Linked DNA regions of Homo sapiens. The protein of the gene in region 1 interacts with the protein of each later gene in a biochemical or structural test. Each region holds a gene or a part of one and is shown on either strand. Other genes may lie near its edges. The genes, in order: COPG1 and ARCN1.

The links.
Region 2: the proteins of COPG1 (region 1) and ARCN1 form a complex in vitro, tested with the Homo sapiens proteins (one study listed by BioGRID).

Annotation. Positions count from the first base shown.
Region 1 is NC_000003.12:129,262,962-129,266,773, forward strand, and holds part of COPG1 (coatomer subunit gamma-1), read left to right. Parts: intron 1-942; coding exon 943-1,038; intron 1,039-2,587; coding exon 2,588-2,831; intron 2,832-3,812. UniProt on the Homo sapiens protein: The coatomer is a cytosolic protein complex that binds to dilysine motifs and reversibly associates with Golgi non-clathrin-coated vesicles, which further mediate biosynthetic protein transport from the ER, via the Golgi up to the trans Golgi network.
Region 2 is NC_000011.10:118,571,011-118,575,500, forward strand, and holds the start of ARCN1 (coatomer subunit delta), read left to right. Parts: upstream 1-1,398; 5' UTR 1,399-1,537; coding exon 1,538-1,540; intron 1,541-1,585; exon of another isoform or gene 1,586-4,490. UniProt on the Homo sapiens protein: Component of the coatomer, a cytosolic protein complex that binds to dilysine motifs and reversibly associates with Golgi non-clathrin-coated vesicles, which further mediate biosynthetic protein transport from the ER, via the Golgi up to the trans Golgi network.

The DNA.
Region 1 (3,812 bases):
GCAGTAAGCCGAGATCGTGCCACTGCACTCCAGACAGAGCGAGACTCCGTCTCAAAAAAAAAAAAAAAAAAAAAGAGTCCTTCTGGAGCAGAGTGGAGGGGTGACTGGGTAAAGAGACTGTTGGAGTAATTCAGAAGGAGAGGATGGTGCCTGAACCGGCGGGAGTAGGAGAGGTGGGACAGTGCAAGAGCTTTTTGAGGGATAATGCCTGTTGGCAGGGTTGGTGTGAGGGTTGAGGGGTGGATGTCAACAGAGATGATGCCATTTTCTACTTTGAGCTGACAGTGGTGCTCTTGACTAGTTTGCAGGGGAGGAAAAGATGGGGTATTGGATGAGGGAGGGGGAAGGAGATGGAGATGTTTGTGGTTGCAGACATGTGGAGTTTGAAGTGCTGTGGGCGCCAGGTGGAGTTGTCTGACAGGCAGTTGGAAAAGGCAGGTCTTAAGCTCAGACAGGAGATAAATATTGGGAGTCAGTGGCATATAAGAGGCGGTTAAAGCCATGGGAGGGGATAAGATTGCTGAAGAGACTGTGAGAAGAGAAGCGGCCAAGGACAGAATACCCCAGAGACAGGCTTAACCAAAAAGGAGCCAGAGGAGATGATGGGTGGGAACCATCAGTGGGAGCCAGTGGTAGGGAGAGAAGCAGGACAGGTTGGGTGGAGGGGACTCGGAGACTTAAGAAGCCTGAGTAGAAGAGCAGAGTTTGGGGAACCCAGAGTCTGAGAGTCTGACACTGGGGCTGTTGGCACTGCCTTGGGTGGGCTCAGGGATTGTGCCCTTCAAGCTTCAAGCGTGGAGTTGAGTTCCTCTGGTCTCCTTGCCCTTGTGTCATGCCCAAGGCCTGGCCTTACCTAAGGAAGGACTCAGTGGGCACTCAGGGAACTGAGTCACCCCATCTTGGTGGCAGGGCCTGCTGCTCATGCACGTCTATTTCATTTAGGTGGTGGTTGTCCAGGCCATCAGTGCCCTGTGTCAGAAATATCCTCGCAAACACGCCGTCCTTATGAACTTCCTGTTCACCATGCTGCGGGAAGAGGTAAGAGTCAGGGGCATTCGGGGGATGCCAGGTCTCCTGGTGCAGGGAGTGACCTGACCACTGGCTCCATGCTCAGCTTTGTGCGTGTGCTTATGTTAGCCTGTTAACCAACTGGTTTTCATGGTGCCTGCAACCCTTTAAACTCCTTGTGGACATGTAAACACGTACCAATTGCTAGTAATTACAGTAATAACTATGACTCACCAGCCTGACTTTAAAAACTGGATGTCCTGAGGTGATGCTTGTGCAGAAGATGGGAAAATGCATGTTCTTTTCTGGTGGACTCTAGTGCAGAAATATTCTAGACCATTCCAGGAGCTCTAGGAGTGGTTTCTTGTGAAACCGGTGCTAATAATACGACATTGGTTCTATTTCTGTTCCCGACGTGAATTACTGATTCACTTATGCCACCTTTCTTGGACGTCTCAACAAAATGGGTTAATTCTTAGGAGCAATAGCAGATGTTCATGGAGTAGATTTGTTCCTCAGATACATGGTACCCCTTTCACCCAGCCCCAGAGTGGCCCATGGACTAGGCAGTAGAGGAGCCATTGCCTTGAGTGTCTTTGCGTTTCCCAAGAATGTTGTTGTAGAAGGGCACTAATGTTTAGTGAGTTGTCAGCTAATGGGCCCAGCACTTTGGTGATTGTGTTTGTTTTTTTTAAGTAGAGATGGGGTCTTGCTGGGTTGCCCAGGCTGGTCTCAAACTCCTGGCTATAAGTGATCTTCCCACCTTAGCCACCCAAGTTCTGGGATTACAGGTGTGAGCCATCATGCCTGGCCAGGCCTAGCACTTTGGAGACACTGTATGCATGATAGCAGTTTTTTTTTTTTTCTGTTGAGTAGGAGTCTCGTTCTGCTGCCCAGGCTGGAGTGCAGTGGTGAGGTCTTGGCTCACTGCAACCTCCACCTCCTGGGTTCAAGTGATTCTCCTGCCTCAGCCTCCCGAGTACCTAGGACTACAGGTGCCCCCCACCACGCCCGGCTAATTTTTTATATTTAGTAGAGACAGGGTTTTACCATGTTGGTCAGGCTGGTCTCAAACTCTTGACCTCAGGTGATCCACCCACCTTGGCCTCCCAAAGTGCTGGGATTACAGACGTGAGCCACTGCGCCCGGCCTCCATCTGTCACCCAGGCTGGAGTGTGGTGGTGTGATCACGGCTCACTGCAGCCTCAACCTCCTGGGATCAAGCAATCGTCTCACCTCAGACCCCCAAGCAGCTGGAATTATAGGCATGCACCACCATGCCCAACTAATTTTTCTATTTTTTGTAGTGATGGGGTCTCTCCATGATGCCCAGGCTGATTTCGAATTCCTGAGCTCAAGTGGTCCACCCACCTCAGCCTCTCAAAGTGCTGGGATTATAGGTGTGAGCCACTGCACCTGACCAGCCTTTTGTTTGACAGGAAAGAGTGATAGAGGCCCAGAGAACCAAGTGCCCTGTCTCCAAGTTCTGTGTTTGGACAACTGTCCTTGGTCCAGCTCAGGTCTTCAACTCTTTTCTGGAGAGAGCAGGCTCCTTGCTTAGCTCAGCTTCTCTCTGCAGGGTGGCTTTGAGTATAAGCGCGCTATCGTGGACTGCATCATCAGCATCATTGAAGAGAACTCAGAGAGCAAGGAGACAGGGCTGTCACATCTGTGCGAGTTCATCGAGGACTGCGAGTTCACAGTGCTGGCCACCCGTATTCTACATCTCCTGGGCCAGGAGGGGCCCAAGACCACCAATCCCTCAAAGTACATCCGCTTCATCTATAACCGAGTGGTCTTGGAGCATGAGGAGGTCCGGGCAGGTAGGTCTGAGCCAGGGCTGAACTTGGAAACTTAGCTTACCCTTGAATAAATGTCCCAGCAAAGGGACCTGAGCCTCCAGTGGGGATTTGTGCACTCAGTGTTCTTGCTGCACAAGCTGTTTTTCATAATATTGTAGGCAGGACCTTACATGTCATCTAGTTGAACAGTTCTTTGTTTTTTGTTTTGTTTTTTTTTTTGAGATGGAATCTCGCTCTGTCACCAGGCTGGAATGCAGTGGCGCAATCTCAGCTCACTGCAACCTCCGCCTCCCGGGTTCAAGCGATTCTCCTGCCTCAGCCTCCCGAGTAGGTGGGACTACAGGTGTGTGCCATCATGCCCAGCTAATTTTTGTATTTTTAGTAGAGATGGGATTTCACCATGTAGGCCAGGATTGTCTCGATCTCTTGACCTCATCATCTGCCCGCCTCGGCCTCCCAAAAGTGCTGGGATTACAGGCGTGAGCCACCGTGCTCGGCCATGGTTCTTAACCCCTATAATTTTTTAAGTATTTTTTTAATTGAGACGGGGTCTTGCTATGTTGTCCAGGCTGGTCACGAACTCCTGGGCTCAAGCTATCCTCCTGCCTCAGTCTCTGAAAGTGCTGGGATTACAGAGCCACTGTGCCTTGCCTTAAGTGATTTTTTTTTTAACTTTCACTGTATGTTGATGTTTAGCTAAAAAACAAAAAGCTTTGTTGAGATATAATTCACATGCCATAAAATTCACCCATTTATATAAAGTTTACAATTCAGTGAGCAACCTTCCTATTCTTTATTTTTAATTTCTTTTCATGCCCCCACTGGACAGATTTTCTTCTTTCAGCAATAAATGATCTTTAAGTAATTGTTCCCTTTCTCATTTTTATTATTCTGAGCCTTAACTGCAAATTGACGCCATTTGGATATGGAAGGTGAGGAGCTTTACATTATAGCCAGCTTCTGTGACCTCATCATGGTTAATTTGAAATTAGCTCCTGGAAC
Region 2 (4,490 bases), on another chromosome or scaffold:
GACTCTAGGATCATGCCACCATGCCTGGCTTAATTCCAGAATGTTTTAATTATTCCAGAAATAAATCTTACACTAATTAACTGTCACTCTCTATTCCTACCCTTCCTGAGCCCCTGGAAATCACTAAGCTAGTTTCTGTCTCTGTGGATTTTCTTCTATTCTGGATCTTTCGTATTAATGGAATCATATATGAGTGCCCCATTGTATCCGTCTTTTTTCACATAATATTCTCAAGGTTCATCCATATTGTAGCATGTCAGTACTTTATTCCTTTTTGTGACTAAATAATATTCCATTGCATATATATGCCACATCTATTGATGAATGGATTTGTTTGGATTGTCTCCACTTTTTGGCTACTATGAATAATGCTGCTATGAACATTAGAGTACACATTTTTGTGTTGACATATATTCAGTTCTCCTGGGTATGTACCTATGAGTGGAATTGCTCAGTCATGTGGTAATTTTGTTTAACTTTTTGAGGAACTGCCAAACTCTTTTCCAACGTGGCTGCACTATTTTACATTCATCCTCACCAACAATTATTATGATAGCCATCCTAGTGAGTGTGAAATGACGTCTCACCACGGGTCTGATTTCCATTTCCCTAAGGATATTCAACATTTCTTAATGTGCATATTAGCCATTTATATATCTTCTTTGGACACATATCTATTCAAATCTTTTGCTCATTTTAATTTTGTGTTTTCTACTCCCTCCATTTTGCAGATGAAGCCCATTTTTAGACAGGAATACTGTATTTGTCTTTTTATTGCTGAGTTATAAGAGTTCTTAGGCCAGGCGCGGTGGCTGACGCCTGTAATCCCAACATTGGGAGGCTGAGGCGGGCGGATCACTTGGGGTCAGAAGTTTGAGGCTAGCCTGGCCGACATGGTGAAACCCCGTCTCAACTAAAAATACAAAAAACAGCCGAGCGTGGTGTGGCGCGTGCCTGTAATCCCAGCTACTCCGGAGGCTGAGGCAGAAGAATCGCTTGAACCTGGGAAGTGGAGGTTGCAGTGAGCCGAGATCACGCCATTGCACTCCAGCCTGGGCGACAGAGTGAGACTCCATCTCAAAAAAAAAAAAAAAAAGTTCTTTATATATTCCGGATACTGGTCTTTTAGGCACACAGGTTATCCTGTATATTAAATAATAGTGGCTGTGCCAGCGGCTTGTTAAACTGTAAGATGTGACGCAAAATAAATGAAGGCGATGACAGTGAAAGGGGAGAGATACGAGGTTCCACAGCTGGAGGGTGAACGCCCCCTACACCTCCTGGGCTTAATCGTAACCGGAGCGGGGTACCCTCAATTTCCCCAGCCCACAGGCCCCGCCCCCCCCCCCGCCCTTTGACCTGCGCCGCTTCCGGTTGAAGACGTGGCTTGGGGCCGCCATCTTGGCAAGAGGCGAAGCGGCAGCGGTTCCTGTCAAGGGGGCAGCAGGTCCAGAGCTGCTGGTGCTCCCGTTCCCCAGACCCTACCCCTATCCCCAGTGGAGCCGGAGTGCGGGCGCGCCCCACCACCGCCCTCACCATGGTAAGATCCGAGCCAGGACCCGAACTCCTGGGGTCCGAGCCTCACCGTCTCTCCTTGTCGGCGGGCCTGGGGCAGGGGCCGGAGGAGCCCCGCCCTGAGGGTCTAGGGCAGAGTGCTTTTGCTCCGGGCTCGGGGAGCAGTGTGGCCTCCTGTGCCCGGTCTCCTGGAGATCCGATGGAGCTGACTCCAGTCCATCTGTCGTCGTGCCCGCTTCCGCACCACCCCCCAACCAGCTGGACTCCCTCGTTTGCTGGGACCTGCCCCTGAGACGGCCCGGCGTTTTTGCTCTGCGAGAACTTCGTGGTGGTGGTGCGGGTCCCAGGCTGCGGACCTCGGAACTGATGCTGTCCCGCCGGTTCCCTGGCGCTTAGGCTCAGCAGGCTGGGCCTGTCTCCGGAGGTTCTGGTCCTTCTGTTAATCAGAGCTTGTCTCCCACCCCCGGTGTTTGCTAGGCCGTTGATAACTCGAAATGCAAATCCACTGGTGTCCAGAAATTTTTCTTTTTGTTCAGAAGGGGGAAATGGAGACACAGAGCGGAAAGGAGTAACTTCTAACACTAATGTATAGGACCCAAGTGTCTCTGAAACCTTCCACTACTTCCGCAGAACTCACTTGTGTCCATTTGTTAGTGTGACTCGGGGTACATACACTGTGTAGACCACTGGGAAAATGTGAGCAGGTTCCAGAGAACACAGGGTTTGCCTTCAAGGAACTTATTGTCCAGGTGAAGAAAAATGTGTATGTGGCATGTCGTAGTCAGATGTCTCACAGGAGGTGGAGTAAGAGGGATGGGTTAGCCTCCGAGACCAGTTACTTGCCTTCCCATGCGTTATCTTTGTATACTCATCTGTTACAAGGATGAGAAAGGTTAATGTGGTTGAGGATGGAGGAAATCAGAACTGCTGACATCACTCAATCTTCCTTTATCGCTGTGATTTGTGGATATTCATGAAGTAGTAGACATTCTTTGGTTTCAAAAAAGCTAGTAATTTATTTTTCAGTGCACCTTATGTCCTTTAGTCTTTTGAAGGATGTTCTGTTCTGTTCTTTTTTATTCTTTTGTCAATAGATAACTTGATTTAAAACATCGTCCAGTGTACCTGAGAGATGGCAGAATGTAATTTGGTGGCAATCCTAATAAGTTCTATTGACAACCCTTTAGATAAGAACTTGGATAATGGGGGGAATTCATGCTTGGACTTTAGGCCACTGAACAGCTTTTCTCAGCCTCAGGTATATAAATTGCATCAAACAGGTTTGCCTCCTAAAATTTTTGTGTTGGACACAAAATTTCCAGAAACTTGTATTTTCAGTTTCTCCAGGAGGTTCTGTATTTGGTTAGTGATTTTGAAACTCAGTTCCCGTTTACACCCTGGAATTAATAATGCATTTTAGAGCATATTTTTATTTTAATAGTAAAGTTAAGGTCTTGTATTATATAAACCAGATAAAGGTAATCTTTCTAAAAATATTCTTTGTTAAAAGGTTCTTGGAACTTAGTATTTTTAATTCATTGATAACTGAGGGATGGTAAAGCCCTACGTGATATATATAAAATATAACTTTTGCATGCTATTTTGACATGTGTACGTATACATAGAGTTGTGTCACATATTTCTGAATTATTTGGGACTTAACATGATCCAGATACCCACAGATTTGTGTACTCTGGAGAACAATTTATCTCAGTACATTCTGCTCTGTAGAGTGTTAAGACATTGGTATGATTTCTGTGTAATGTTTTTGGGTCCTGCTCCTTTACAAACAGATCCCTGGACAGTAGAAATGTCCAGATAGGGTGAAATTTTTATCTAAAAGTTGTATCAAAATTTCCAGCGTTTATTTTAGCTCAACATTTCATTATGAAATTTTCCAACATCTGGAAAAGTTGAAAGAACTTTGTAGTGAATACCCATATAACCACCAACTAGATTCTATAACTAACATTTCACTATATTTTATCATGCATCTAATCATCCATCCATCCCTCTCTCCATTAAAAAAAAATATACATTTCAAAGTAAGTTGCAGATATCAGTACGTAAACATTGATTTTTTAAAAAATAAATTCCCTTTGGCTTTAGTTATTGAAGTGCAGAATGTCCTAGACTGCAAAGTTCCAATAGATAAATAAGTGAACAAATGCAGAAACAAATGCTTTCTCATGACTTCATCATAAAATAAAGTACAAAGAAAGGCATCTTTTGATTTTTTTTTTTTAAAGAGACAGGGTCTCACTATGTTGCCCAGGCTGGAGGGCAGTAGCTATTCACAGGCGCTATCATAGTGCACTGCGGCCTAGAACTCCTAGCCTCAAGCAATCCTCCCGCCTCCATATCCCAAGTAGCTGGGACTGTAGGCATGCGGGCCTTGATTTGATCTTTTTTTTGTATTCTGCAAATTAATGAGAACATGTTCTGACTTTTTTTCTTGTTTGTTTGGTTTTCGAGACGGATTCTCGCTCTGTCTCCAGGCTGGAGTGCAGTGGCACAATCTCAGCTCACTGCAACTTCTGCCTCCCGGGTTCAAGCTATCCTCCTGCCTCAGCCTCCTGAGTAGCTGGGACTGCAGGCGCCTGCCACCACGCCCAACTACTTTTTTGTATTTTTAGTAGATACGGGGTTTCACCATGTTAGCCAGGATAGTCTCGATCTCCTCACCTCGTGATCTGCCCGCCTCGGCCTCCCAAAGTGCTGGGATTATAGGTGTGAGCCATGGCGCCCGGCCCCTGTATTATTTATGTATCTTTTTAATTGTGTTTTGAGGGACAGCAAAGAAAGAAAATGATTCTCTTGAGTTTCCATTGATTTGCCATCTATTTATGTCTTCATATAGAAGTTCACTGCAGAAACTGATAACGGGTGTGTGTGTGTGTGTGTGTGTGTGTTTTAATTCTCTGCAAGCTTTTGTTTTAGAATAGAAATGTGATGGACTTAAAACCCTCACTGAG